Homo sapiens: one gene and its partners. The protein of the gene in region 7 purifies or fractionates together with the protein of the main gene of each other region. This does not show direct contact. Each region holds a gene or a part of one and is shown on either strand. Other genes may lie near its edges. The genes, in order: MAP4, TMEM171, FLT4, GTF3A, SMAD5, EPS15L1 and EPN1.

The links.
Region 1: the proteins of EPN1 (region 7) and MAP4 purify together in Homo sapiens (affinity purification with mass spectrometry; one large-scale study listed by BioGRID and IntAct). This does not show direct contact.
Region 2: the proteins of EPN1 (region 7) and TMEM171 purify together in Homo sapiens (co-immunoprecipitation; one large-scale study listed by IntAct). This does not show direct contact.
Region 3: the proteins of EPN1 (region 7) and FLT4 purify together in Homo sapiens (affinity purification with western blotting, with the first as the bait; one study listed by BioGRID). This does not show direct contact.
Region 4: the proteins of EPN1 (region 7) and GTF3A purify together in Homo sapiens (affinity purification with western blotting, with the first as the bait; one study listed by BioGRID). This does not show direct contact.
Region 5: the proteins of EPN1 (region 7) and SMAD5 fractionate together in Homo sapiens (co-fractionation; one large-scale study listed by BioGRID). This does not show direct contact.
Region 6: the proteins of EPN1 (region 7) and EPS15L1 purify together in Homo sapiens (affinity purification with western blotting, with the first as the bait; one study listed by BioGRID). This does not show direct contact.

Annotation. Positions count from the first base shown.
Region 1 is NC_000003.12:48,006,188-48,010,160, reverse strand, and holds part of MAP4 (microtubule-associated protein 4), read left to right. Parts: intron 1-3,973. UniProt on the Homo sapiens protein: Non-neuronal microtubule-associated protein. Promotes microtubule assembly.
Region 2 is NC_000005.10:73,126,804-73,130,776, forward strand, and holds part of TMEM171 (transmembrane protein 171), read left to right. Parts: intron 1-1,586; coding exon 1,587-1,728; intron 1,729-3,973.
Region 3 is NC_000005.10:180,646,631-180,651,200, forward strand, and holds the start of FLT4 (vascular endothelial growth factor receptor 3 isoform 1 precursor), read right to left. Parts: upstream 2,971-4,570; 5' UTR 2,916-2,970; coding exon 2,858-2,915; intron 1-2,857. UniProt on the Homo sapiens protein: Tyrosine-protein kinase that acts as a cell-surface receptor for VEGFC and VEGFD, and plays an essential role in adult lymphangiogenesis and in the development of the vascular network and the cardiovascular system during embryonic development.
Region 4 is NC_000013.11:27,427,377-27,431,349, forward strand, and holds part of GTF3A (transcription factor IIIA), read left to right. Parts: intron 1-2,493; coding exon 2,494-2,590; intron 2,591-3,156; coding exon 3,157-3,245; intron 3,246-3,973.
Region 5 is NC_000005.10:136,131,393-136,135,962, reverse strand, and holds the start of SMAD5 (mothers against decapentaplegic homolog 5), read right to left. Parts: upstream 3,119-4,570; 5' UTR 3,001-3,118; exon of another isoform or gene 1,073-3,000; intron 1-1,072. UniProt on the Homo sapiens protein: Transcriptional regulator that plays a role in various cellular processes including embryonic development, cell differentiation, angiogenesis and tissue homeostasis.
Region 6 is NC_000019.10:16,402,063-16,406,035, reverse strand, and holds part of EPS15L1 (epidermal growth factor receptor substrate 15-like 1), read left to right. Parts: intron 1-1,286; coding exon 1,287-1,448; intron 1,449-2,105; coding exon 2,106-2,303; intron 2,304-3,550; coding exon 3,551-3,715; coding exon of another isoform or gene 3,716-3,730; exon of another isoform or gene 3,731-3,973.
Region 7 is NC_000019.10:55,688,396-55,692,368, forward strand, and holds part of EPN1 (epsin-1), read left to right. Parts: intron 1-474; coding exon 475-599; intron 600-901; coding exon 902-976; intron 977-1,471; coding exon 1,472-1,555; intron 1,556-3,358; coding exon 3,359-3,662; intron 3,663-3,973. UniProt on the Homo sapiens protein: Binds to membranes enriched in phosphatidylinositol 4,5-bisphosphate (PtdIns(4,5)P2). Modifies membrane curvature and facilitates the formation of clathrin-coated invaginations. Regulates receptor-mediated endocytosis.

The DNA of each region.
Region 1 (3,973 bases), on a different chromosome or scaffold from region 7:
GAATGGTCCGGATCATTTGTAGTCCTGCCTGGATTTGGCTGTTGTGGTTTTGCATTGACAGTAATCACAGGGCATGGTAATACGAAGAGATGCCCTAATGGGTCTCATGTATTCCATGCATACTCTTCCTTACTTCCGTTGTGAAGTTGTAGACTGATTTCATCTTGATAGTCTGGGTCAGTCACCTTAGCCAACACTGTAACTCCCCCTCTGAGCCTGTTGACTTAAAGGGAGGAGGAGCCCAAAGTGTCCAGGTGACAATCTTAACTTCCAGTTTAATGGAATCATTGTTGTGTCTCCTGGTGGCAGCATTCTTCCCTCTGGAATTAAGACCTCTAGGCCAGCAGAACATAATGTTGCAGGAGAGGAAGCAAAAATTTTGCTAGTGGATCACTAGGGGTGATGGTGAGTGGTGCCACTTCCAGTTCCACCCCTCGATTCCTGGACCTGTGAATCCTGGCTATGGGAGAAACAGTACCTTATATTGGACGCTGATTCAGAGGATACACGGCCTTCTGGAGGACTTTCCCACAGTTCTGCAAAGTATTGTCACCTAGTTGGCGTTGTAATTGTGACTTCAATAGGCCATTCCACTGTTCTGTCAATCCAGCTGCTTTAGGATGATGGAGAGCATGGTAAGACCAGTGAATTCCATGAGCATGAGCCTACTGCCGCACTTCTTTAGCTGTAAAGTGAGTGCCTTGGTCAGAGGCAATGCTGCGTGGCATACCATGATGGTGGATAAGGCATTCCATGAGTCAGCTGGGTGCGGTGGCTCACGCCTGTAATCCCAGCACTTTGGGAGGCCGAGGCAGGCAGATCACTTGAAGTCAGGAGTTCAAGACCAGCCTGGCCAACATGGTGAAACCCTGTCTCTACTGAAAATACAAAAATTAGCTGGGTGTGGTGGCGGGTGCCTGTAATCCTAGCTACTTGGGAGGCGGAGGCAGGAGAATCACTTGAACCCGGGAGGCGGATGTTGCAATGAGCCAAGATTGTGCCACTGCACTCCAGCCTGGGCAACAGAGTGAGACCCCTTCTCAAAACAACAACAACAACAACAACAACAAACCAAAAAAACATTCCACAAATGGTAGTCTTGGTAGAAGCATTGCATACAGGATAGGCGAACCCATATCCAGAGTAAGTGTCTATTTGAGTGAGGACAATCCTCTGCCCTTTCCATGATGGAAGAGGTCCAATATAATCAATCCGCCACCAGGTAGCTGGCTGATCACCCAAGGAATGGTGACATACTGAGGGCTTGGTGTCGGTCTCTGCTGCTGGCAAATTAGGCACTCAGCAGTGGCCGTAGCCAGGTCAGCCTTGGTGAGTGGAAGTCCATGTTGCTGAGCCCAAGCATTACTTCCATCCCTGCCACCATGGCCACTTTGTTGGCCATGGGCGATGGCAGGGGAAAGAGGCTGAGTGGTGTCCACAAAATGGGTCATCCTATCCACTAGATTATTAAACCCCTCCTCCGCTGAGGTCACTTGTTGGTGAGCACTCACATGGGATACAAATATCTTGTCTTTGACCACTCAGAGAGGTCCATCCACATACCTCTTCCCCAAATTTGTCACCAAGTTTCCAATCATGCTCCTTCCAAGTCCCTGACCAGCCAAACCATTGGCTACAGCCCATGAATGAGTATATAATCACACATCTGGCCATTTCTCCTTCCATTCAAAGTGCACAACCAGGTGCACTGCTCGAAGTTCTGCCCACTGGGAAGATTTCCCTTCATTGTTGTCCTTCAGGGATGTCCTAGAAAGGGGTTGTAGTGCTGCAGCTCTCCACTTTCGGGTGTTGTCTGCATATGATGCAGAACCGTCTGTGAAGCAGGCCCTAATCTTCTTTTCCTCTGTCAGCTGATCATAGGGAACTCCCCATGAGGCCATCAGTGCAGGCTGGGAGAGAGAAGGCAGGGTGGCAGGAGTGGAGGCCATGGGCATTTGAGCCACTTCCTCATGTAATTTACTTGTGCCTTCAGGACGTGCTTGAGCCCGATCACGTATATACCACTTCCATTTGATGATGGAATGCTGCTGTGCACAATCCACTGTATGGCTAGATGGGTCTGAAAGCACCCAGCTCATGATAGGCAGGGCAGTTCAGGTCGCATGGTGACTTGATGACCCATAGTCAAACATTCAATTTCCACTAAAGCCCAGTAACAGGCCAAGAGCTGACTCTCAAAAGGAGAGTAGTTAGCTGTAATCAGCACTTTGGGAGGCTGAGGTGGGCGGATCACAAGGTCAAGAGATCGAGACCATCCTGGCCAACATGGTGAAACCCCATCTTTACTAAAAATACAAAAATTAGCTGGATGTGGTGGCACGCACCTGTATTCCCAGCTACTTGGGAGGCTGAGGCAGGAGAATCGCTTGAACCTGGGAGGTGGAGGTTGCATTGAGCCGAGATCGCACCACTGCACTCCAGTTTGGCAACAGAGTGACACTGCGTCTCAAAAAAAAAAAAAAAGGAGAGTAGTTATCTGTAGAAGATGGCAGGGCCTTGCTCCAAAATCCTAGAAGTCTCCATTGCGATTCACCTATGGGAGCCTGCCAAAGACTCCAAACAACATCCCCATCTGCCACTGACACATTAAGCACCATTGGATCTGCTGGGTCATATGGCCCAGGTGGCAGAGCAGCTTGCACAGCAGCCTGGACCTGTTGCAGAGCCTTCTCCTGTTCTGGACCCCACTCAAAACTGGCAGCCTTTCAGGTCACTCAGTAAATGGGCCGGAGTAATACACCCAAATGAGGAACGTGTTGCTTCCAAAATCCAAATATGCCCACTAGGCATTGTGCCTCTTTCTTGGTTGTGGGAGAGACCAAACACAACAACTTATCCTTTAACTTAAAGGGAATATCTCAACAGGTCCCACAACACTAGATCCCTAGAAATTTTACTGAGACAGAAGGTCCCTGAATTTTAGTCGGATTTATTTCTCATCCTCTGGCATGCAAATGTCACACCAATAAGTCCAGTGTGTTTGCTATTTCTTGATCACTGGATCCAGTCAGCATAATGTCATCAATGTAATGGACCAGTGTGATATCTTGCGGAAGCGAAAAGCGATCAAGATCTCTCCAAATAAGATTATGACACAAAGCCGGAGAGTTGATATACCCCTGAGGTAGGACAGTAAAGGTATATTGCTGGCCTTGCCAGCTGAAGGCAGATTGCTTCTGATGGGCCTTATGGACAGGAATAGAGAAAAAGGCATTTGCAGAGTCAGTGGCTGCATAGCAGGTACCAGGAGATGTGTTAATTTGCTCAAGCAATGAAACCACATCTGGTAACAGCAGCAGCAATTGGAGTCACCACTTGGTTAAGCTTATGATAATCCACTATCATTCTCCAGGATCCATCTGTCTTCTGCACAGGCCAAATGAGAGAGTTAATGGGGATGTGGTGGGAATCACCACTTCTGCATCTTTCAAGTCCTTGATGGTGGCACTGATCTCTGCATACCTTCCAGGGATGTGATATTGTTTTTGATTTACTATTTTTTTAGGTAGAGGCAACTCTAAGGGCTTCTATTTGGCCTTTCCCACCATGATAGCCCTCAACCTAGCAGTCAGGGAGCCAGTGTGGGGGTTTTGCCAGCTGCTAAGTATGTCTATGCCAATTATGCATTCTGGCACTGGGGTAATGACCACAGGATGAGTCCAGGGACCCACTGGGCCCACTGTAAGTCAGACCTAAGCTAAAACTTCATTAATTACCTGACTTCCATGAGCCCCTAGTTTAACTGGAAGACCACAGTGATGTTTTAAGTCCCCTGGAGTCATCATCAGCCCAGAGCCAGTGTCCAGTAGTCCCCAAAGTGAAAGGTTGGATGGAGGTCTCCTTGGGGAAGGATGGGAGAAAGATTCACTGCATAAATTGTCAGTAAAGTAGTGGGGTCCTTTCTCAAGGGTACCTGGCCTCCCCTTCATTCAAGGGGTTCTGGGTCTGTAAA
Region 2 (3,973 bases), on a different chromosome or scaffold from region 7:
TTCATTTTTTCTGAACTGTTATTGCTATTGCCAGCTTCTCAGAGGCTTTCACCAGGCCCCCAGCAGTGGTGCTGCCAGAGCTCTACACTGTTCTGGTCCACTTGTGTGGTGCATTTTATATTGGAATCGGAATACAAATTAGAGTTTGCATCTGGTCCCTAGTTTCTCCTCAAAACATGAGGATGTATTCTGGAGTGAACAGTAGCCACAGAAATGCAAAAACCAAACTTCTTTGGGTTCAACCTTCATCTGTATGGGTGAAATTTTGGTAAATAACAGTTAGGGGCTGTAATATGGCTTACTGTCATTTGCTCAGGGGCTGAAACTACATTTGAGGAACAAGGCACTTTAGCCAACAGCTAACTTGTGAATTAAAGTTGTAGGCTGAAAACGAGAAAAGCTTTTTCAGCAGTAGACACCCCAGAGGAGGGAAAGGAGCTTGTTAGCAAACAATTCACAAAAAGGCTTGGTCTTAGACTTGCTACAAAATATAGACCTGCTTTCATACCATAATTGTCAGCACTCTGGATTCTGAAATGTAGGCCTACTTTTAAAAAATTTGTGGTAAAAAAAAAAAAAAAATATATATATATATATATATATAAAGCATAAACAATTTAAACTGCTTTTTGTTTCGTTTTGTTTTGTTTTGAAACAGAATCTCACTCTGTCACCCAGGCTGGAGTGCAGTGGCATGATCCTGGCTCACCACAACCTCTGCCTCCCGGGTTCAAGCAATTCTCCTGCCTCAGCCTCCCGAATAGCTGGGATTACAGGCGCCTGCCACCACGCCTGCCTGATTGTTTTTTCTTTGTATTTTTAGTAGAGACAGGGTTTCGCCGTGTTGGCCAGGCTGGTCTTGAACTCCTGACCTCAAGTGATCCACCCGCTTCGGCCTTCCAAAATGCTGGGATTACAGGCGTGAGCCACCACGCCTGGCTTTTTTTTTTTTTTTAAGACAGGGTCTTGCTCTGTCACCCAGGCTGGAGTGCAGTGGTACAATCATAGTTCACTGCAGCCTAGAACTCCTGGGCTCAAGCAGTCCTCCTATCTCAGCCTTCCGAGTAGCTGGGACTGCAGGCGTGTACTCCCACATCTGGCTAAATTTTTTCTTTTAATTTTTTTGAGATGAGATAGCGCTGTGTTGCCCAGGCTGGTCTCCAACTCCTGGGCTCAAGCGATCCTTCCTCCTCAGCTTCCCGAAGTGGTGGGATTATAGGTGTGAGCCACTGCACCCAGCCAAACCGTTTTTAAATGGTTTAGTGGCATTGAATACAGTCACAATGTTGTTCAACCATTATCATCATCAATTTCTGGAACTCTTCCATTATCCCCAACAGCAACTCTGTACTCACCAAACAGCAATTCCCACTCCCTTCCTCCTCCCGAACCCCTCCTAGCCCCTGGTAACCTAGTCTACTTTTCTATCTCTATACATTTAATGGGCTTACTTTTAAATTTTGGAGTTAGCAGCAGGTGTGTTGACCTTTTATATAGATGGGCCAAATATATAATTAATTTTGCTTTTGCTAATTTGCTTCCATTTATTACCCACCTGTTGTCAACTAAATATTGTTTTGCCTTAGGTGACTCGGTAATAATATTTCCACCCCCTCCACCACCTTACTTTCCTGAATCTTCAGCTTCTGCGGTCGCTGAGAGTCCTGGAACTAACAGTCTGCTTCCGAATGAAAACCCCCCTTCATATTACAGTATTTTCAACTATGGGTAAGAATTTCAATTTGAACTTCAAGAGAGGCCTGAATTCAGGCCACACTAGTATTAAGGCTGTGTGGTTCACCAGGAGGCATTCAAGTGTGAGTATCTTTTTTGCTGATGTTATGTCAGAATTAGTGTCTTGATATTAACAGTACCTTTGCCGAAATTTGGGCAGCACATAAGTTAAAAATGATAAAGTGATCATGCTGGGTTAATATGAAGCCTACTCCAGGCATCTATCTTTATGTGCTCCTAACAGGGGTGATACTCAGAATGTTTAACAACCCTTGCCGGGTGCTGTGGCTCACACCTGTAATCCCAGCATTTTGAGAGGCCAAGGTGAGTGGATCACTTGAGCTTAGGAGTTTGAGACCAGCCTGGCCAACGTGGCAAAACCCTGTCTCTACGAAAAATAGAAGAATTAGCTGGGGATGGTGGTAGGCACCTGTAATCCTAGCTACTCGGGAGGCTGAGGCATGAGGATCGATTGAACGCAAGAGACAGAGGTTGCAGTGAGCCTGTTACCGGCGGAGGGTGTCCACGTACTTTGTGTTTTGAACAAAGAACTGGACAAAATGCACAAACGAAGCAAGGAAAGAATGAAGCAACAAAAGCAAAATTTTATTGAAAATGGAAGTACACTCCACAGGGTGGGAGCAAGCCTGAACAGCTGCTCAAGGGCCCAGTTCCAGAATCTTCTTGGGTCCAAATCACCCCTAGAGGTTTCCCATTGGCCACTTTGTGTTCACCTCATGTAAATGAAGTGGTGGCCCACAATCCGTCTGATTGGTTGCAGAAAGCAGCCAATCAGAGGCTGAAGTGAAGTTACAAAGTTGTTGTCCTATGCAAATGTCTGATTGGTTGCAAAAAGCAACCAATTAGAGGCACTTTCAATTTCCCATCTGCCGAAAGGTGGGTGTTTGCAAAGGGAGTAGTCTTTGGTCCTTTTGTTACTCAGGGGTGGAAAGTTAGGGTTTTCCTTTCAATTTAGTTCTAGGAAGTCAGCGTGAAACGGCCGTAGATTCCCTGCCTCCACACCCTATTCTTCTGCTCCAAGCCGAGATCGCGCCACTGCACTCCAGCCTGGGCAACAGAGAGAGACTCTATCTCAGGGGGAAAAAAAAGAATGTTTAATGACCCACCAATCAGACTGAGCACCAGGACTGGGCCAGGAGGCCCCTGCTATGCTAGGCTTCACTGCTTTAGATCATGGAGAGGTGTGAGGGTCTCAGGGGATCCCCAACAGTTACAGAAGGGCTTTAGTACTCTGATGGCCGTGCTTGGGTGACTGGCTAAAGTCAGCCTGAGCCCCGATCCAACACAACTGGGCCTCTCCTTCAATATTCGCTCCTTCCCTGGGCCGCAGAGAATATCAGGTCAATACCCACCCCACACAGAATGCAGCGAGGCAGGCTCTAGTGGGACGGGCCTGAGGTGCCAGGAGCCTGGGGGAGGGGGTCTGGATGGAGAATGACATTGAGGAAGAGGCGAAGATGATGAGTTCCAGGGTGAGTGACAGGGAAGCTCAGAGGTCCCCAACTGAGAAGACGTGAGTGATGAGCTTGGTTTCGGTGGGGAAAGGATGGTGGGCGGCTGATGGTGGCGGTACAGTGAGATGAGGGCCTTGGAGGCAGACTGGGAAGGGCTGGGTTTTGGGAGAGAGAGGAGGTGATGGAGATGGAGCTGCAGAGGTTGTTGGAGAACCAGAAGGGCAAAGAGTCAGGGACTAGTGGGAGACCCCCAGGAGGGGCTTGTGCATACCCCAGAAATGGTGTGCTCAGGGAGCAGGGCTGGAGAAGGCTCTGGTGGTACCTTCTAGAATGGGAAACCAGGGTTTAGGAAGGGAAGGAAGAATTGCTTCACATTGTCACAGGGTGAAGCAGGTAAGACAATGAGATATGTGCATTTTTGCATGCAGTGAGCAGCAGGCACAGAGAGACTGGTGCTCATTGCTGGGGATAGCACCACCTTACCTTGTTATTCGTGTTTAAGGAACTCCCTCTCCACCCTGCCTTGACAGAGCAGGCAGTGGGCCTTGGAGCAGGGGCCAGGGTGCCTTTTCTCTGGGGCCTGGAGGGAATGAAGTTGTGTAGAGATTCTTTTCCCACAAAAGCAGGGGGACAGGTTATCTGATGGGAGAGGGAAAGAGGTGGCTGACAAGGACAGAATTGGCTTTACAGCTTCATATGGGGTCGTGATGGGGGGATCCAGGGAGGTGCATGTGGGAACGGCCCTGCATGGAGAAAGGGCAGGC
Region 3 (4,570 bases), on a different chromosome or scaffold from region 7:
TGGGCAATACACGTCTGATGGCATGTCTGTGTCCCTGCAAGGCACAGGAAACCCCTGTGCGATGGGGCCAGGTCCAAGTCCTCCCTGGGCCACCCCGAACAGGCACTATGCTGGGGTCTTGCATAGAACTGCAGGCTCCTTCCCTGGGTCGGGGTGCCACTGCTGGGGGTTACAGTGAAGAATTCGCCAGACAGACCACACATCACACCTCGTACCCTGTCTGGGCCCAGCCATGTGGGCCCTATGCTCTGGGAGGGCTCAGGACTCCTTCAGCCACACTGGCTCTGTGCCATAGGCCTGGTGGATGAGGGAACAGCACCTGCATTCGAGTCCTCAGAGCCCTGAGCTGGAGCAGAAGGTCCCCAGGCCCAAGTAAAGTGGGCCTGATCCCCACATCCTGCCTGCAGTGACTTGCATCCCTGGGCCACACATCTGTCCACATCTGGGCCTTTGTGACCCAGGTCACAGCAAGGGCAAACGTCCTGAGACCAGGCCACTCCAGATGCCCAGCAGACCCTGCTCCTGCATGTCCCTGAGCTGGTAGCCACAGTGCAGAGGTGCCAATGGCCTCTCTCTAGACTAAGCCCCAAGAGACATCTGTGACCTACCCTCTCCACTGGGGCAAGACTGTGGAACTGCAGCAGGCATCTGGGTCTTGGAGTCCAGCCCAAGCACACACAACCCACACAACCTCGGGGCTTGCCAGCTTGTGCCATGGCTATGCTTGTGCCATGGCTATGCTTGTGCCATGGCTATGCTTGGGGAAACTGAGGTGCAGGGAGGGGAAAGGAGGGGGCCCAGGTCACACAGAAAGGACTTTACGGCAGAGGCAGGACAAGAGTCTGGTTCTATGATCAATAGCACACTTTTAAGGGGTCAGCTTCAGGATGCTCAGGCTTCTGGCCTGCTCCCACCGGACCAGCTGCCCTGACACCCGACTGCAGCTCCCACCGGACCAGCTGCCCTGACACCCGACTGCAGCTGAGGGCTTGTGCTTCCGCCATGGCATCCCCCATCAAGCTGGGGGCTCCCGGGGTCTTCAGCCTAGCAGGGGGTACAGCAAGGTGCAGGGCTCACGGAGGGATGACCTCTGTCTTCATTGCCATCTCCCCACCAGCCAAACCCAGGTCCAGCCCAGGACACCCCTCTCCATGGGGCGCCCAACTAATGCCCTCTCTCCTCTTCATAACTGGGTCACTAAGAGTCACTACTTACTGCAGGGAATAGCTTCCTCACCCTTCACCCCACGTCCCTCTGTGCTCCACCCGGGAGCACCAGGACACTGGCCTCTCCTGGTTCTCCTTATACCTGCAGAATGTTCCCTGGATCCCTGGAAGCCCCCTTGCCCTCTGGGCCCCTCCTCCAGGGTTCCCCTCCCGGGTCTCTCTCTTCCTCTCCAGCTACTCAGCCCAGCTCAGACACTGCGCCCAGGTGCCTGTCCCATGTCTCCTCCAGGATAAGCGTCTCCCATTCTACAGCCCTGCAGTCCAACCAAGGTCTACCAGCCACTCGACAAATACATCCTGAGCACCTGTGGGAGCCTGGTCCTGGGCTGGGTCCAGGAGGGCCAAGGGCAGCGCCCTGATCTGGCCTGCCCGACTCGGAGGCCCAGATAGATGTTCTCCTCCCTCCTCCCCTGGTTGAGCCAGACCTGCCCCCTCTCCTGTCCTCTGCCCTTCAGCCAGTGGACATACAGGTGGTGAGCAAAGGCAGGCTTTGTCAGGCTTACTTTGGGCCTCCTGGGGACCTTGGGGAAGTGACACATGTCCTTGGTCTAAGCTTCTCCATGTGTAAAATGGGTCTGACACTCCCTGTGAGAATTACAAGCATGTAAAGCCAGTATTTAATTCCTATGGCGTGCAGAAATGTTGAGGTCCCCGTCGCTGACTTCAGGGCTTCAGACACTGGAACCCCTGACCCCGCCCTTACACCCTTTGATTTCCAGGGACACCAGCTCCGTGGGGACTCCCAGCTCATCTTCTCAGCTTCCTCCCTGACATCTCCATCCACTCCCTCTGCCGCCCGCTCATCCCCCACAGTCCCTCTTTCCAACCCCTCCGCCTCCGCTTCAGGTCTGCGTCTCTCCCCGCCAGAGCCACATCCCAACACAAACCGAACCCCGCCTCTCCTGTGCAGGGGACCCTCCCGCGGGGGCCTCTGCTCCTCAGCTGGCCTTCGAGGCCCCTGTCCCCTCAAATCCGGGGACCCCTGGCCTTCCGCCCCTTCTGCGGCGCTGACAGCCCGCGATTCGCCTCCTCAAGATTCGTCTCAAGTGCCAGCGTGCACCTGCACCCGTCCGCCTCGGGCGCGCGGTGGTCCCCGGCCCCTGTCCCCGCCGTCGCCGGCCACGGGGAGGGGGAAGCCCGCCTCGAGCGCCCTCTGGGGGACCGACCGCGAGCGGAGGCGCTGGGCGTCGGGAAGTGCGCACCCAAGTCCGGGGCCCGGCCGGGATGGATCTCCGGCGCGCGTGGGTCGGGACGGCGCGGCGCGGGGACCCCGCGGGGAAGCGAGTAAGGGCGCGAAGGATCCGGGCTCAGCGCGCAGCCCGGCAGGGCCCGGCTCCGAGGACGCGGAGCCACCGACGGAGACGCGGATTCAGGGGCCGGGAGAGCTACCCCTGCGCCGAGGCGCGGCCCGGCCGCCCTGGCCCTGACCCGGCTGCGGTCCCCGCCCGCCCCTTCCTCATCCCGAGGTCCCGCGCCCCAAGCGCCGTGCTCCCCTCAGGCGTCCGCGCACCAGGGCCACCGTGTCCCCCGCCCGTACCCGGCGGAGCGGTCTCAGCGCCCGCCCCAGGTGCGCGGTACCCCCTCCCCGGCCAGCCCCACGCTCGGGCGGGTGGCCCGTTCGCCGCGCTCACCGTCCAGGAGTCCCAGGCAGAGCCACAGTCGCAGGCACAGCGCGGCGCCCCGCTGCATCTCCGGCCGCTGCGCGTGGGTCCGACCCGAGCGGCCGCGGCTCGGGGCTGAAAGTGTCCGCGCGGGCGCCGGCTGGCCTGGGGCGGGGCGGGGCGGGGCGGGGGCCGGAGGCGGGCCCGGGATTCAGGCCGCTCCCCGCGCCCCCCTCCCCCCGTCCCTCCCAGCCCGCCGCGGGGCGTCCGGTGCACCCGAGCAGTGCGCGCTCCGCACCACAGGGTCCGGGCCCCCTCCTGGGCGGCTCCGGGCGCGGGGACGCGGGTAACGCAGACGGTCTCGCGATGCGCTCCGGAGGTGATGGAGCCTGGTGGGCAAAGGGGAGCAAAATGCGGCACGCGCTCTTTTCCGTCCTTTCTTTCCATCGGTAAAATCTAGACTAAACAAGAAAGCAATCCTTGTAAAAATAGTATGTTACATCTTTGAAAATAGTGGCACCAGCCGGCGTAACATAGGGAGACCCAGTCTCAAAAATAAACAAGCAAATAAATAAAATAATACGCCGAGCTTGGTTGTGCGCGCCTGTAATCCCAGCTTCTCGGGGGGGCTGAGGCAGGAGAATCGCTTGAACCCGGGAGAAGGAGGTTGCAGTGAGCCGAGATCGCGCCACTGCACTCCAGTCTGGGAGCCAAAAAAAAAAAAAAAAAAGCAAAAACAAAACCCGTTCAGCAGTGTTTACCTGCACAGTGTCGACGGACAGTGTCGACGGAAGCCGCACCCGTGAGCGGGACACCCGGGATGACCGACCCCCTCCCTGCAGGCCTGGCCTCCTAGCTTTAGAACTCCCCCAGATGTTTTGTTCTCAGCTCAATCAGGACCCGCCCCCACCTTTTTAATAAAGCGACACTTTGCTTTTGCTTTCTGACTTGGCAACCCTCTTACAGACTTCCGTTCTCTTTTCAGTTTGTCTCTAGAATTTTCCTGTTTAATAATGAAGCCCATGACCATGACTGTCTCAACCTCCTTCCCTGCTTTTCGTTTCATTCACATTTTCCATCCCCCCACCCCCGCCCCCCAAAGCCCTTTCATCCTCGCCAAAAAGCAAGAGTAGATTTTCAATAACCACTACCAGCTCTCTCCAATCCAGGTAAGAAGTGGCTATATTATTAAGCTGGAATCACAAATCAGTGCGGATAGTGTAGATAATTTAACAAATAAGGTTGGGGAAACTAGGTAACCAAGCGATACATGAAGTTAGGTATTTATCAATCATATATTGATTTTTTTTAGCTTTGAAAGATTATGAGATGTAACACACTTATGGAAAGTACATAATATATCAGCATATTATAAACCTGAATTTTAAAGCAACAAATACCTGTGTTTCCATTCTCCAGGCCAAGGGATGTAGAATGACATCCCCACATCCCCTCACTTCCCATCACAAACCCCTCACCAACCCCAGAAGATGCCCACTACCCTGGCATTATCATTTCCCTGCTTTTGTTTATCATTTTATCATCAAAATATATGTTTTGCTTTTTTTTTCAGAATGTACTTTTTTTTTTTTTTCTCAAAGTCTCTCTTTTGTTGCCCAGGCTGGAGTGCAGTGGGACGATCTCACTGCACTGCAATGCAACCTCTGCCTCCTGGGGTCAAGCAATTCTCCCGCCTCAGCCTCCTGAGTAGCTGTGATTCCAGGCACCCGGCACCATGCCCGG
Region 4 (3,973 bases), on a different chromosome or scaffold from region 7:
AGACAAACCTGGGCAACATGGTGAAACCCCGTATGTACAAAAATACAAAAATTAGTCAGGGATGGTGGTTTGTGCCTGTAATCCTAGCTACCCAGGAGGCTGAGCTAACATAAAATGCTCATGGGTGGGGACAAGCTAAAGTATATCAACACAATGGGATACCCTACAGCCAGGAAAATGAATGCAGATGCTCTCTGCAAAGCCATGAGAAAATCACCAGGGCACTTTAATTGAAAAACCAAGGTGCAGAAGAGTCCTCTTTAGGCTACTTTTATGTGTGTAAAAAAGCTAGGGGGTAGGGGGAGGGGTGAGTAGTGGGTGTTGGGTAGGCAGGAAGCAACTATATTTGTATTTGTTCCTATTTGTAAAGAAGTCTTAAAAGTTACATAACAAAACTAAAAATGTCATCTGTTTTGGGAGCAGTGGGGGATCCTGGCCAAGTAGGGGGTGGGGATGGTAGGAAATGCCATGCAACCAGGAACTACTGGACATGACTCTTCCAGCTCATGATCTAACCCAGACCCTGCCCCTCTTTAGCTGTAGTTCCCCGTTTCCCACTGCTCGCTGGACAGTGCTACTTGGCTATCTCTGTGTCTTCTTAAATTCCATGTGGTAGGCTGGGTGTGGTGGCTCATGCCTGTAATCCCAGCACTTTGAGAGGCTGAGGTGGGAGGATTGCTTTGAGGCCAGGAGTTCAGGCTGGGCAAGATGGTCAGGTCCATCTCTATTAAAGAAATAAATAAATAAAAAATTCCACATGGCCCAAATTTGTCACAGTCAAACTGAGCTCACTTTTCTGTTTGATCTTCTCTCATGTTCTTGTCTGGAGAGGTGGCCTCGCTGTCTGTCCAGTGACCCATAGCAAAGATAAGGCAGCTCCCTGGACTCTCCATTCTTTCTCCCATCCCTTGCAACAGGTGGGTTGCCAGATCCTGTAACTGACCCATCAGATCCAGCAGCCACTGTCTTATCTCGGTCCCTTCCTCTGGCTGGAATGACAGTTTGCAGGCCAGCCCTCTCCCCCAGTGCCCTCCCGTGTGCTTCCCTTAAAGCTGTGCAGTGCTTTCAAGCACGGCCTACATGTGAAATCCAGGTTTCAAGTGTGTCCTACAATGACCTGCGTGATTTAGCCCTTTTCTGCTTATCTTGCCCCATTTGCTTGACTTGCAGGCATGAAGCTGTGGTCCAGCTGTGCTAACTAACCAGCCCCCTCTCCAAGTGTGCCGGGGTCTCTCACGCCCACTTGGGTCTTGTCAGGACTCTTCCTGGCCTGTCCTCCTATCCCATACCCGGTTGGGTTAGATGCCTGTGTCAGGTTTAGAGTGAAGAATGGCAGGAACCCCAGCACAAGAGATGCTTAAACAAGATGGGCTCTTTGTCTTGTGCGACTGAAATACAGAAATACAGAGGCAGGAGCTCTGGAGCCTCTTCTGACTGGTCTCTGCCATCCTCATCTTGGGCTTTAACCTCACTGTGATGCCTGTTTGGGCCCATCTGTCACATAAGCATGCCACTGGCAGGAAGGAGGAAAGGGCATAAGAGGCATGCCCCCTTATTTAGAGACTTTGTGGGGGTTGAGCAGGATGGGCTGGACTCAGCCATGAGCCGCCCTAATTGCAGGGGAGGCCGGAGAGTGCACTTTCTGTCGGCCACCTGCCCAGCTAACACTCAGCATTCTGTCCCTGCAGTTAGGGGGGCTTCTAGGGTCTCTGCCACAGCGCCCCTCCCATTTGTGGGCCTCTGTGCTGTGCCTCCCATGGTCACTGCTGGCTTGTTTGTCTCTGCTTGGCCCTAGGAATGGGACAGTGCCTGCCTCAGGGTTATCAGTGAGTGATGGCTAAGATTGAGCCTGGGAAAGGAAGTCCTGCTTCATCCCTCAAGCTTACGAAGGCTCATCACAAGAGGCACAAATTTTCTTTTGGGAAAAAAAAAAAAAAAAAAGGAAAAGGCTTTGCAGAGGATTTAGATCATTCAAAGCCAAGATGCCAAGATAAGGGGAACCAGAATGGCTTGGTAAGCCAGAGAACATAATGGTTATGGTTCTGCTCTAAGTATCTGTTTTACCTCTAATGATAAGCCAAGACAAGTTTTATGGAGGCCTTTCTGGAAATCCAGTTCATAATGACATCTCAAGCAGCATTAAGGTTGTCAGATTCTAAGCTGAGAATAATTTGTCTTAAGCATGATTTAGGCCTAGTGTAGGCTTTTGGGACTAGTGTATTTCACCTTCCCATCTGCCCAGTGTGTATAAAAGATGACTGATGTAGTGTGTATAATTTCAGAAGCCTAATATGAAAAAGCATTTTGTTACATGATAGTCATCAGGTTGAGAGTCTATGTGGTATGGCTTAACACTCTGGAATTCGCTAAGACTATTTTATAGTATTACTATTCTTTGGAAGAATTAGCTTCTATAAAGTAGGAAGATATATGTGTCTTAAAACTTCTTCTCCCTTGGTTTATTAATATTTTGGTTTATATAACTTCTTACAGTTGTGCAGCCAATGGCTGTGATCAAAAATTCAACACAAAATCAAACTTGAAGAAACATTTTGAACGCAAACATGAAAATCAACAAAAACAATATATAGTAAGTATGATTTTATATGCTTAAATTTTTTGAGTATTTTTACACTTACTGCCTATGTTTCTGACATTTTCAGCCAGGTGCGGTGGCTCAAGCCTATAATCGTAGCTTGAGGCCAGGAATTTGAGACCAGCCTGGGAAACATAGTGAAATGCTGTCTCTGAAAAAAAAAAACAAAAACAGAAAACAAAACAAAAAATTTTGGGGTAACAGAGACCCTGTCTCTAAAAAATAAAAGTGAAAAATAAAGTTTTCGTCAACCAAATTTTGTCTGCCAAATGTCTGAATTTACTTAATGCCATCATAATGATAAAGGTTTTAATTTGGAAGCAGACATTGTGCAAATTAGTGTATTGGGAGACTATTCCAACTGAAACAGTTTTGCTTTTTCAAATGTTATATGATTCTTCAAACCTTTTTGAGATAAAGCAGAATTTTACAGTAACAAAATGGGTGAAAGCAGAAATTTTATACAGTCTCCAAAATTGTTTTATCTTGAGGATTCTGTTACGAACTGTTCATTTTGTTTTGACTTTCCATAAGACTAACGAGCCTTTACAATTTAACAGTGCAGTTTTGAAGACTGTAAGAAGACCTTTAAGAAACATCAGCAGCTGAAAATCCATCAGTGCCAGCATACCAATGAACCTCTATTCAAGTAGGTACTTCATGTGGCTGAAAATGCCTGGATTCTAGGTGTGAATAAGATTGGAAATGCAAGGGTGGTGTTGAGCATTGTTTCATGTTTTTTGGCCATTTGTATATCTTCTGAGAAATGTCTGTTCATATCCTTTGCCCACTTTTCGATGGATTGTTTTTTTCTTGCTGATCTGAGTTCCCTGTAGATCCTGGATATACATTCTTTATTGGATGCATAATGTGCCAGTATTTTCTCCCACTCTCTGGGTTGTCTGTTTACTCTGCTGATTATTTCTTTTGCTGTGCAGAAGCTTTTTAGTTTAATTAGGTCCCATTTATTTATTTCTATTTTTGTTGCATTTGCTTTCAGGGCCTTAGTAAGAATTCTTTGCCTAGGCTGATGTCCAGAAGTTTTTCCAATGTTTTCATTTTGAATTTTTAGTTTCAGGTCATAAACTTAATTTGAGTTGATTTTTGTATAAGGTGAGAGATAGGGATCCAGTTTTTCCAGCACCATTTATTGAATAGGGAGTCCTTTCCCCAGTTTACGTTTTTATATGCTTTGTTGAAGATCGGGTGGCTGTAAGTATTTGGCTTTATTTCTGTTTTGTTCCATTGGTCTAAGTGCCTATTTTTAAACCAGTGCCACCCTGTTTTGGTAACTGTAGCCTCGTAGTATAATCTGAAGTCTGGTCAAAGGAAAAGAAGTCACTATATGAAAAAGACACATGCACACACGTTTACAGC
Region 5 (4,570 bases), on a different chromosome or scaffold from region 7:
CTATGAGAAGACGGGCAAATCATAGGCTATAAGCTGCTTGTAACATTTGAAGAAATAAACTATTTGCCTTCTTTGTGGTTAGTGTACAGAGAGACAGAGAGACAGACAGACAGATACAAGGAATATAGATCGTCTAGAAGTAAAAACAGGGAAGACTGATAAACCAAGAGAATAGACACCTATATCCTCAAGCGTACTCAAGTCAGCTCTGAAATTCACCCAGATGTGTGGCTCATTGCCTAGACCAACATATACATCTGGTAATAATAAACACTGATATGTCATAAACAAAAAGAGTTTCTTTAACTCTACAAAGTACTAGTAATATTAAAATTTACATAAAGACAAAGAATATATATGAAATAGATTTTTTTAGATGGTATTTCAACTTAAGTAACTGTATTAAGAAATGAAAAACTGGTATTTTACTGCCTAGTTTTCAAAACACTAAAATCTTTAATTTGACCAAGTTACAAATCTGTTTTCAGTAGAGGGAGAAAACACACTGCCTCCGTTCAATGCAAAGGACAAAAAAGATCATCACTGCAAATCATAATGTTTGGGTTCATGATGAAAACAGGAAACAGACAGGCTGCCCAGGTATAATTATGGTTGTAATCTAATGTGCCTTCAGGTTCAGCCAAGAATTAAAACCCAGTGAAGAGGGTAAGCAGAATTTACTTGCCTCTACTTTGCTGCAGAATGCAACTTTTAATAATACTCCCAGCAACATGTTACATAACCAACAGTAAACAACAATCTGATTCAAACCTCATTAGTAACAACATTCTGCCACTGTCTCCCACTGAAATTAATAGCTGACTTTGCCAGAGGGGAAAGAAATCCAACACATTATCAATCTACCCATTTCTGTGGCGCCTACCACAGTGAACCAGACACGCAGATAATACTACCAGATCTGTACAGAACCTACGAAAATATTTTATTCTTTTTTTCCAGTTTGCTGCTCTCTTCCTCCTTTTAACTAGACCATATCATGTGGATGCCTTTAAAACCTGAGAGTAAAGTCAGTTGAGAAGGTTAATCTAACTTTTCTTGCTTATTTCAGCTATGATCTGAAAGGAATGGAAGCACAAAATGATGAATAAGGTATTTTTAACAAAGATACATGGGTAAATTAACAGCAGTAATGTAAAAAAGACTGAGGGAGCAACAATGTGGAAAGGGAAGGAAAGGAAGCTGTATAGGAACAATCACACAAATAATCATCAAAATTAAACTTTATAAATCTAAACATAGTATCTACAACCTTTATGAAGGTTAAGTTTTGTTAAATTGTCTAAGTTTTGCATTTTTACAATTTTCACTGTAGAGAAAAAAATATTAATAGTTACCAAAGGAATAAAAGACTAAAATAATTTGTTATACATCTGCAAATAGCTCCTTAAATTTGGAACACTAATTTCATAATGATATTTGGATCCATAAATGTGAAACTGTCACACTGAATGTAGGTACTGTTTTCCCCACAATGGATACTACTGCATTGGCATCTAGCAGAAATTGTAAGCTATTTGGAATGTTACTAAACCTACTGGGACTAAGGTTTTCAATCTTTTGTCTTTCAAATTAAAATTAAAAACTAATTCACTCTGGGCAATTCAGGTACTCTAAGGAAATTCAAGTACTCTAGTTTTAAATACGAATTTTCAAAAACGCAACCCAAGTACCCTTTCCTCTCAACTTCTGTGAGGCCAAGCCACGACCTCCACCTATTCAATCTTTGCTGCTAGATAACAACCCTTTTGGTAGTGCTAGGCAACAGGCATGATGTGACAAACCTAGACATCAAAACTTTTCCACAGAAAGATAAGGTAAACAAGATATACTTAGCGCCACACCCATTTAAATGCACAAGCAACCAAAATTGCTCCCTCCCCCCGCAACACCCCCCCCCCCCCCCCAAAGCTCCAGCTGGTCAGGAAACATTGTCTTTACAATCAAGATAAACATCTGGCTCAGGGTGTTCAGCCATTCCTCACCTACAGGCTTGCCTAAGCCCCATTCTCCAATGCCATCACCACCAGAACCGGAACATTCTGTTGGGAAGCCGGCAAACGTCCAAATACCCCAAGTATCCTCGCCCGAGTTCTGCAACCAAAAATCTGTTTTGGCTACTGAGCATGCTCAGACTTAAGACGGGCGCGCCACATGGGAGTTTTCAAAGCTTAGGCTCCAAACTCCACGTAGTAACAGCAGCTGAAAGGAGGAGAGGGGAAAAGGGGAGGGGAAGAGACTGGAATATTAATTTGAGCCCTGATATTGAAGTATAGGACCCGGCCAGCGGCTGAATATGGTGAAGGCAAAAAGACGCTGCTTTGGCATTCTCTTTGCAGCACAGAGAAGTTTACATGAAGTAGAAGAAATCCTTGCAGTGGTGAAAACTGACATGGCAAGTGGCAGAAACCAGGTCTAACTACCAGCTGATTGCAGTAGCCGGTCACAACTGCCCAGAGTGTAATTCCCACCGATAAGCGCGGATCCTTATCTTTGAAACACAAAGCGACGGCGGCACGGATTCATCAAGCCATTGGACAGCTTCGCAGTGCAGCAGCCCAGGCTGCCCGGCCGAGCACCGCAGTCCTATCAAGGGTGTGTATCCAGGGTGGTACATCCGATGAGTTAGGAAAGCAAACCGCTCCCCAGGACAGCGCGGGGTCAGGGGGTCCCCTCCAGGGCGTCCCAGACGCCTCCCTCCAAAGTCTGGGCGGTAACAGCGGGGCTGGGACGAGGGCCAGCCCCGGCCCCGCCTCAGGACGCCCCGGGCAGCCAGCGAGGCCTCCGCAGCCGCTGGGCCGCACCGTGTCCGCCAGCCGGGACCCCGGCAGGCCAGGACTCGGCCTACCTCCCGCCCGACAGGCCCTGGGTCGTTTCCGCTCCGTCCGCGGCCGAACGCCCCCGCCTCGGCCCGAGTCCGCCGGGGCAGAGCCTGCAGCCCCCAGTTCCCCTCGCCCGCGCGCGCCGGGGACCCTCACTCACTCGCGAGCCGGCTAGGCGCGCTCTCCCGACGCCGTCGCTGCGCTTCTCCTCGCTGCAACTTTATTAGCAGCTCGGCCGCGGGACACGCGCACGGCGCCCGCTCGCCCAGGACCCGGATGAGGGAGGGAGGGAGAGGGAGCCCGGGAGGACGCCCGCTGGGGTCGGCGCATGCGCGCCAGAGGCGGAGTGACCGCTGCGGGACCGAGGGAGGGGTGTCTTGCCCGGGCGGCTGAAAGAAGCCTCCGCGCCGGGCTCCGCGCCGGCCAACGCCGACTTCCGATCAGCTGGAGGCCTTCGCGTCGATGGCCAGGCCTGGGAATGGGAATCAGATAGCTCCCACCACCACCACAGTAGGCGCTAGAAGCTTCCACTAACCAAATCAGTATACATTGTAATAAAATTAAGTAATTGTCCTTGACACAGACAACTGGAGGTTTTCTGTCACATACAAAGTGTAAACAAAAACATCTTCAGATACGACTTAGCTACTTTTATTGATCTGTAATACAAATCTGAATGAAGAGTCTTCTTTCTGTGCAAAGTAGCTTCAAAACATGTTTCTGAGCATCTTACAGCTTCTTACTAGATGCAGCACTAAAACCCCTCCCACGGGGCAATCCTGGAACCCTTGAGGGCCTGTGGAAATGGAGCGAGTGCCCACCCTGGAGTTCCAGGAGTGGGACTGCCCATACACTGGATCGCAACCCCAGTTGTTCAAGACACATAGCCTCTCCACCTCCTTGTGGGGAGGGAGATCCCGTGGGGACCCAGCCCCTGGACAGGCGGGGCCACTGAGTTGCAGAGACACCATCCATAGGCTTATATACACCACCCCATCTCCTGGACTCTCTTTTCTAAGTAATTGGAGCTCTTCTCGATGCTTTTTCCTCCAAATTTCCAAAACCGTCAGTATTTCCTAGAATATAATATTGGTACCACATAGGGTACCCGATTTGAATAGTACTAGTAAGAAAAAGCTTTTGAATAATTTTGTTTTTATTTGAAAAGGTCAATACTGGCTCTCCAATGTTCTATTATAGGTTTTCTTTTTAAAATAAGTAAAAATCAAAATCGGGGTCATTTTGGAATGCTCTTTGACACCCTAATCCAATCCATCAGAAATTCTACTGACTCTTTCTTCAAAATTTATCCTAAATCTGACCATTTCTCACACCTCAATTGCCACCTCCATGGCCCGAGCCAGGGTCATCTCATCTGACACACAAATGGCGCAGCCACTATTTTGCTCCAGGCTCTAGAAGTTTATTTCTGTGGAGAAGAAACTAAATAAATGTCCAGAAGTCTCTGCATTAGGGGTGGCCATCTGAAATGGTGACAGAGGGCTAGTAAAGGAGTGAAGGGGAAGTGGGGGAAGAGACCAGAGAGTGAGTGTCTAGTTCCAGAGACCAAAGGGGTCACTGCTATTTCATTCCAGCCAACTGTTACCATAGGGAAATGTGGGAATAAGGACCCAGTGTTGGCAGATATTCTGATTTTTCAAGCAAAGCTGGAAATTTAGATTTTTATGTGAAAATCTCAATTATATCTGTTTAGCAACTTCTTTCTATTT
Region 6 (3,973 bases), about 39 Mb from region 7:
TCTCACGACCACCACCTCACTCAGGCCCCAGCTGCTGCTGCCTCTCCCTGGACCCCACCCGAGGCCCCTGCAGTTCCTGCGTCCTGATGGCCCCTTGCACCACGCTCCACATGGCAGCTGGAGGGAGGAGGCTTGTCACAATGCCCGTTGTGCTATTTCAGCTTTGGTTATTTATCTTAAAGACAGATAATGCATTTGCGTGGTTGAAAATCAGGAGGTGAGAAGCCTCTGCCCTCTTCTTGGGTGTCCCCATCCCCGGAGGTGCTGTTCATGAGCTCCTGGAGGGGGCCTTCCAGAAAGGTTGATGCATACCACACATACCCTCCCCTTCCCGTTCGCACAAATGCAGTGTGCTCATGTCCCACTGTAAGGCAAAGCACACGGCGCCATCCCGTTCCATGGCCAAGGAGCGTCCCACAGTGTGGGCTGTGCTGGAACCTTCCAGCCAGCACCTCATGGACATCTGCATTGTTTACGGATTTTGCTGTCATAGACGTTGTATACCTCTGCACACGCTGTATGCTTCCAGGATGCTTTTCTTGGAAGTGGAATCATGGGGCATTGGAGCCTCGGGCTGACCATCTGGATCCATCCCACGGGGTCAGAGAGAGCTTCAGAAACAGAATCATGATGTCCCGCCTCCCACACTCACACATCCCACCGGGCTCCCCACCACAGAGCCCAGCGCAGTCTCCTTGGCGTGGCCTGTGGGGTGCAGCCTCTGATGCCTCCACCCATTCCCTTTTGCTCTAGCTGGAGTGCGACACCCCCCGACCCTGGGGTCCCTGTGGTTCCCTCCGCCAGGCTCTGTCCCTGGCTCTTCACCTGCCTGGCACCTGCTCACCTGTTGGCCCCATCCTAAATGCTGCTTTTGTGGGCATCTTCCCTGCCCACAAGGTGTGACTGTAGTTTCCCTGTGACCCCCTTGGTGCCACTTGTCCACGTTTATTTGCGTTTGGGTGATGTTCCCCTCCGCAGCCACAGCTGCATGTCATCCGGGAGCTGGGGCCTTTTTCTCACAGGGACCCAGCCCCTTCTCTCGCACCTGGCCTCTGTTAGGCCATCGGGAAATACCTGCTGAGGGAGCTGGTGAGACAGTGGCCCTGGGCCTCCAGCCCAAGAGGCACACATTGGCCGTGGGTGTGCACGGAATGCTGGCCCTGAGCACGGTCACAGTGGGTGGTTTCGGAGGCTTCCCCTGGACTTCTGGCCCAGGCTGCCCCCCGTTATCTTGGACATGCTTCATTTTTCCCATCCTCACGTAAACCCCTGCAACTCCTCCCTAGGAATTACAAAATGACCTAGACCGGGAAACAAGCAGTTTGCAGGAGCTCGAGGCTCAGAAACAGGATGCTCAAGACCGCCTGGACGAGATGGACCAGCAGAAGGCCAAGCTCCGAGACATGCTGAGCGACGTCCGGCAGAAGTGCCAGGATGAGACTCAGATGGTGGGTCCCGGCCACCTCCGGGGCAGCGCCCTATGCACAGGCAGGGGCTTCCCAAGGACTCCCCTGAGCTCGTGTTACCTGGGAACACAACACTTAGACATCCTACTGGGTCAATAGAGTTCCTCCAAACACCACGTGGAAAAGTGTCCAAGCACCTGTGGCTTGACTTCCTGGCCACCCCCCTGTACTCCTAGAAGTCAGGTTGTATAAGTGAATGGCCTTGGTCCCTGCGAACTTGTGCCCTGAACACACCCCACCTGGCTGTGCCCCACAACACAGGGAGTTCCAGGGTGCCTGTGTCCCCTCCTCAGGTGTCTCTGAGGCTCCTCACAGATCCCGGAGGCTGCAACCTCAGAAAACTCTATGACGTTCAGCCTCTGGGGGGATGGACAGATTGTTCGTGCTTGGTCATGCCCCTCATTATTCCAAAGTGATCTTCCGTTAGCCACAGTGGGATGAGCCCATCTGCCTTTTCATTTGTGTCTCTATTTTGGGTGTAGAAAGAGGCCTGTAAGGAAGCCAGGTGTCGGGCCTGGGTTAGGTGTCTGCGTCCCTGGCTTAGCTTGTTTCGGGGATGGGGGCTAAGAGTTCTTTCTCGGAGTCCCATTTCATCCTGCACTGTGAATCTCTTTAACATCTTTTAACATCTCATTTCAGATCTCATCACTGAAAACGCAAATCCAATCTCAGGAATCTGACTTAAAGTCCCAGGAAGACGATCTGAACCGAGCCAAGTCGGAGCTGAACCGATTGCAGCAGGAGGAAACCCAGCTGGAGCAGAGCATTCAGGCTGGGCGAGTCCAGCTGGAAACCATCATCAAGTCCCTGAAGTCAACGCAAGACGAAATCAACCAGGTACTTCACGGAGTCGGGTCCCTGCCACATGCCAGGGACCAGCGAGCCCCAAGAGCCGAGGCTGCCACTGCTGAACTCCTTTGCTCTCACCCTTGTTACTTACGTGAGGGTCTCTTTTGGGAGGCTGTGGTGCTGGCCTGGAGGCGCAGGGCCAAGGACTCCCCAGGGCATGTTCCAGAGTTTGTTGGCATTGGCCTGGAGGAGTTCACTTTCCTTTCCTGAGCACACAGCATCTTCAAGGAGTAGGCGGGGTGGGGTGGGAACACTTAATTAATGGCTCATTTGGAGAGAACTTGGGGTTCTTTCCAGCCTGGTCCTCACACAAACAAGAGGGACAAAGTCAGAGAGATGACTTCTTTGTCCTTGGGCAAGAGAACAGACGTCATCCTCCACAGCCACTGGTGTGTTCAGGAGGCGCCACCCTGGAGCATCACGCCATGCAGGACCCCCATTCTCTAAGCTGCCTGGGACGCCCCCACCCTCTTCCCAGTCCAGGGGGGGGCGCTGGCTTCTCGTGGCCTGCAGCCGTTGCCCTTCCCTGCTCTCCTGTGGGCAGTAGATGAAGGCCTCTGTCCTGGCCCTGGGCATCCAGTCTACACAGTGGTTGTGACACTGGCCCTCGCCTGTGTCGGAGTGGCCAGGCACACTTCTTTTACCAATTGAACTGGTCTCTGTCTGTGCTCCATTAGCCAGTTTATAGGCCACAGTTGATCGCAAGCATGGACCGCTCAGAGATTTACCACCCTTTCTTGTGCTTTATGGTTAATATCTGTAGGATTACTTTCAGTGTTTTCTCTTCTAACCCTTAGAGTTTGTAGTTGGGTGTCAGGAGCAAAGATATGTTGCTTTGCGCAGTGCAGTGCCTTACACCTGTCATCCCAGCACTTTAGGAGGCTGAGGCAAGAGGATCACTTGAGGCCAGGAGTTCAAGACCAGACTGGACAACATAGCGAGACCCCATCTCTACAAAAAATACAGAATTTTTTTTGTATTTTTTGCAGAGATGGGTCTTGGTTTGTTGCCCAAAAATATAGGTGGTGACACGCACCTGTAGTCCCAGCTACTCAGGAGGCTGAGGCAGGAGGAGCTCCTGAGGTCAGGAGCTCAAGGCTACAGTGAGCTATGATCACTCCACTACATTCCAGTCTGGGTGACAGAGTGAGACCCTGTGTTTTAAAAAAAAAAAGCGTCTTTTCTGACATGTTTTCCTGACCCTGCTTAATGCTGATGATGTCTTTGTTGCACAGGCAAGGAGCAAACTTTCCCAGCTGCATGAAAGCCGCCAGGAGGCCCACAGGAGCCTGGAGCAGTATGACCAGGTGCTCGATGGAGCCCATGGTGCCAGCCTGACCGACCTGGCCAACCTGAGCGAAGGCGTCTCCCTGGCAGAGAGGGGCAGTTTTGGAGCCATGGTAAAGGTTGAATAAACGTATTACAGTATGGGGCTCTGGTCCCCTGGTGTGACAGCAGAACATCCCACCCGCCAGATCTGTTCATGGCCAACGTTGGTTCCAGCCAAGTGCAGGCGGCTGTCTGTTGTTTTTGCTGCCACTTTGCGCGTTCACACCAGGCCTTGCAGCCTGGCACAGGTGGCCATGCTGAATCCTGGCTTCCAGAACAAAGTCCAAGATAGGCCTGGATCCTTTCAGAACCTGTTTTGAATGCCCTCC
Region 7 (3,973 bases):
TTGGATCCCGCTGTCTCAATGGATGCTGTTCTCCCCTCTGAATTCCAGTTGTTCCCTGCCAGAGCTACCATTCTCAACAAGCCCTGGAAACAGGCCTGGGAAACCTGGGAGGAAGGACCTCCCATCCCCCAGGGGCCCAGGGACAGACCCCAGGCACGCGGAGAGTCCTGGTGGTGGCAGGGCTCAGAGGTTGCTGGGGTTCCCCACCTGCTTATCAGACTGACTTTTGCTCTGGTCCTTCCCTGATGCCTGGCCCCTCCCGTGGGTGGGGCTGCCTGCATCCCCACCCTTCCTCCTCTGAGCACCTGGCGTCTGGTCTCCGCCTCTCAGTCCTAGTCTTGGCCTGCAGAGGTTGTAGGGTGGGGGACTTGGGGGGTGGGGTTGGACACAGAAGCCCCCGTCTGTCTAGGCTATGGGGTTTCCTGTCTCTCGTTCCCTGGTCTGGGTCTCACGCGTTTCTCACCCGCCCTCCAGCCTCATCAGCAGCTGTGGGCTCAGGCCCCCCTCCCGAGGCGGAGCAGGCGTGGCCGCAGAGCAGCGGGGAGGAGGAGCTGCAGCTCCAGCTGGCCCTGGCCATGAGCAAGGAGGAGGCCGACCAGGTACTGGGCGTGCAGCTGGGGCTGTCTGTCCGCCACCCGCCTCCACGCCTCACTTCAGGCTCCCTCCCAGCCAGGCGTGGGCCTGGCCCTCACTGTCGCTGCTCCACATGCTGTCACTCGTCTCCTCCCCAGTCCTGCCTCATCCTCACCCCGCCGTCCCTCTGCGTGTCACTCTCTGCCTGTCCCTCACTGGTTCAGGGACCCCCAGCCCTCTCTTTCTTCGGCTCTATCTGACCCTGGCTCTGCCTCTGACTCTGCCTCTGGCCCCTCCCGTCATGCCCCTCACACTCTCTCTCCCCCAGCCCCCGTCCTGCGGCCCCGAGGACGACGCCCAGCTCCAGCTGGCCCTTAGTTTGAGCCGAGAAGAGCATGATAAGGTCAGAGCAGCCTCCCTGTCCCTGCCCCTGCCAGGGGCTCCCCTCAGACCAGCCCCGTCGCCCCTTCCTAAGTCACCCCCCACCATCCTGCTGGGCCCGAAGCCCACAGGCTCACGCGTGTTGAAACCTCAGTACCTTCAGCCGTAGGATGTAGGACCACAAGTCAGACAGAGCCTGGGTGGTGGCCAGCACAGCTGTGCCAAGGTTGCTCGGGTGACCAGGGTCCCTTCCTCCCCCCAACGCAGGAGATACCACCGAGGCGGGTGCCCGTCCTCCCCGGGTGCGCCAGCACAGCACCCCACTCCCCTTATCCCCTGTCCCGCCTGACCTTTGACCCAGGTGCCCCATCCCCATTTCATACATTGTCCGCATCCCATCGAATCCTTCAGCCGCTTTCGTTGGGGTGGGAGGGGTTGCTGGGGCTTCCAGGCTGAGGTGGCATCTGCCCGTGGCTCACGTTCTCATGTCTCCCTGGTCGTGCCCGTGCCCCAACAGGAGGAGCGGATCCGTCGCGGGGATGACCTGCGGCTGCAGATGGCAATCGAGGAGAGCAAGAGGGAGACTGGGGGCAAGGAGGAGGTGAGCGGGGCTTGTTCTGCCCTCCCTGGCCCCTGCAGGTGTCCGTCCGTCCCATCGCTCATTCCTGCGTGGCCAGGTCCCTGGAGCAGAGACTGAAACACAAGGTCCTGGAGCTGGGCACCGGGTTTCCAGGCTTGGTCGGCCTCTCTGTGCCTCTCCCTCCCTGCTGGGCTGAGGCCGGTGACTGACCAGGCTGCCCTGCGGCCACCTCCTGTGGTCAGCGCTGGCCATCCCCCTTCGGGCTGAGCACCGTGAGGGCCACCACCGGCCGCCACAGCTGAATGGGGAGGCCCAGAATAGGCCAACAGCCTGGCATGGCCACAGGGAGGAGGGTGCAGGGCTCGCCCCATCTGTCACACTTTGTCGGGCACCTCCTTGGTGCCAGGCCGTGTGCTGCACACCCAGGGCCTGTTGGTGAGCGAGGAGGCATGGTCCCGCCCTCGCGAACACTGTTTCTGTGGCGTCCCCATGCTCTGCAGCTGAGTAGCAAACCCTCCCACAACCTTGTGCTTCCAGGTCACGCTTCAGTACTTCCCTGTGACGGGCCCGCTGGCTGGTTGTTTCGTGTCATGGCTGAGGTCACTCATGCCTCTGGGCCCGGGGTGTCCGCACTGGCCTTGCCCTCCAGCCTCCTCCCCTGGCCTCTCCCTGGTTACTAGTCTGTCCTGAGTGTCCTCATAGCACAGTAGCTGCTGCTGCTGCCGCCCCCCAGGACAAGCTCGTCGGGCTGGGTTGGAGTTGCCTCGTCAGCCTGTGCACTGCTATTGGTCTCAGCAGGTCCTGAGGCCAGCCCAAGTTTGAGGGGTGGGGACAAGGCCTCCTCTCCATGGGAGGCGGCAGACAGCTTGTGGCCATAAGTGATCAGGCACAGTGGGACTTTCTTGGTAGACGGAAAGCCTCTTTAGGTTGGCCTCGGCCAGGGGGTCTCTATCAGTGTCCACCACAGCCCAGTGACCCGAGTAAGGGCTGCCCTGCTGGGGGAGCACCAGATCTCACCCATCTCTTCTCCTGCCCTGCCCTGGACTCAGCTCTTCTCCCCTTCCCATCCCCGCCGGGGCCTTTGCCTCACGGGTGCTGACTGGAGATGTGTGCATGAGTATGTTGGGGGCATCTGCACGTTCTGAGACGGGCTCTGGTTAGCTGGGCCCGTCGTGTGCCCACTTCCAGAACACAGGACCATGCATGCGTGTGCGTGCGGCATGGGAAGACCTGCAGTGCGATGACTGCGGGGTGACAGTGGGGCAATGGGCGTGGGAAGGCCTGCAGCGCGATGACTGCGGGGTGACGGCGGGGCAACGTAGGGGGCATCGTGAGGGGTGCTCAGGTTGACCTGAGTGGGTTCATGGGGGGCTTCCCAGGGGAAGGCATGGAGCAGGGGCTGGCCAGTCTGGCTGGAGAAGGCACGGTGGGCAGAGGGAGGATCGAGCTGCTTCGGGTCGAGCGAGGGGAGGGCTTGGCCTCCATCCTCAGTCAGGGCCGGGCAAGGACCTGGGAGCAGGTGGAGTTAAGGGGCTGCCCTGCTGCAGTGTGGAGAATGGATGTGGGGCAGGAGTGGGGCTGTGTTGGGGCTCCCTGGTGGTACCCTCGGGTGGGGTAGGTGGGCAGGGGTGGGCCGACCCCATGACGGATGAGGAGGGAGGCCAGGTGGTGTGTTTGGGGCCTGCCTCCCTCTCACCCCTTATGGATGGCTGCTGTCTGGACACCCAGGGCCTGGCCGCCTCCCCCGCCACGGGCCCCAGCTTGGTCCCTGTCCCAGGCTTCCCACCACTTCTTCATGCTCCTTCTCTTCTCTCTCCCCCACAGTCGTCCCTCATGGACCTTGCTGACGTCTTCACGGCCCCAGCTCCTGCCCCGACCACAGACCCCTGGGGGGGCCCAGCACCCATGGCTGCTGCCGTCCCCACGGCTGCCCCCACCTCGGACCCCTGGGGCGGCCCCCCTGTCCCTCCAGCTGCTGATCCCTGGGGAGGTCCAGCCCCCACGCCGGCCTCTGGGGACCCCTGGAGGCCTGCTGCCCCTGCAGGACCCTCAGTTGACCCTTGGGGTGGGACCCCAGCCCCTGCAGCTGGGGAGGGGCCCACGCCTGATCCATGGGGAAGTTCCGATGGTGAGTGCGTGGCCCACTTGCATGCAGCCCCTACGCCTGTGTGCACCTGTCTTTGGTTGACTGTGCCCTTGGACAGGGACAGATCGAGCCAGTGGCGCCGGGCAGTGGTGGGGCGTCCTGGGTGCAGGGGAGGGGGCAAGGGCGGGGGTCAGATGAGAGCCCAGCACAGGGTGTGTGAGATTGTGCCTTGGAGGACATGGGGGGTGTGCTGTGGGGAGGGGATGGCAGCTCAGCCGAGGGGCAGAGAGGCTCTGGCCAAGGCAGAGCGTGTGTGACGTAGGCATCTGGGGAGGGCGGTGGGTGGAGCTGGG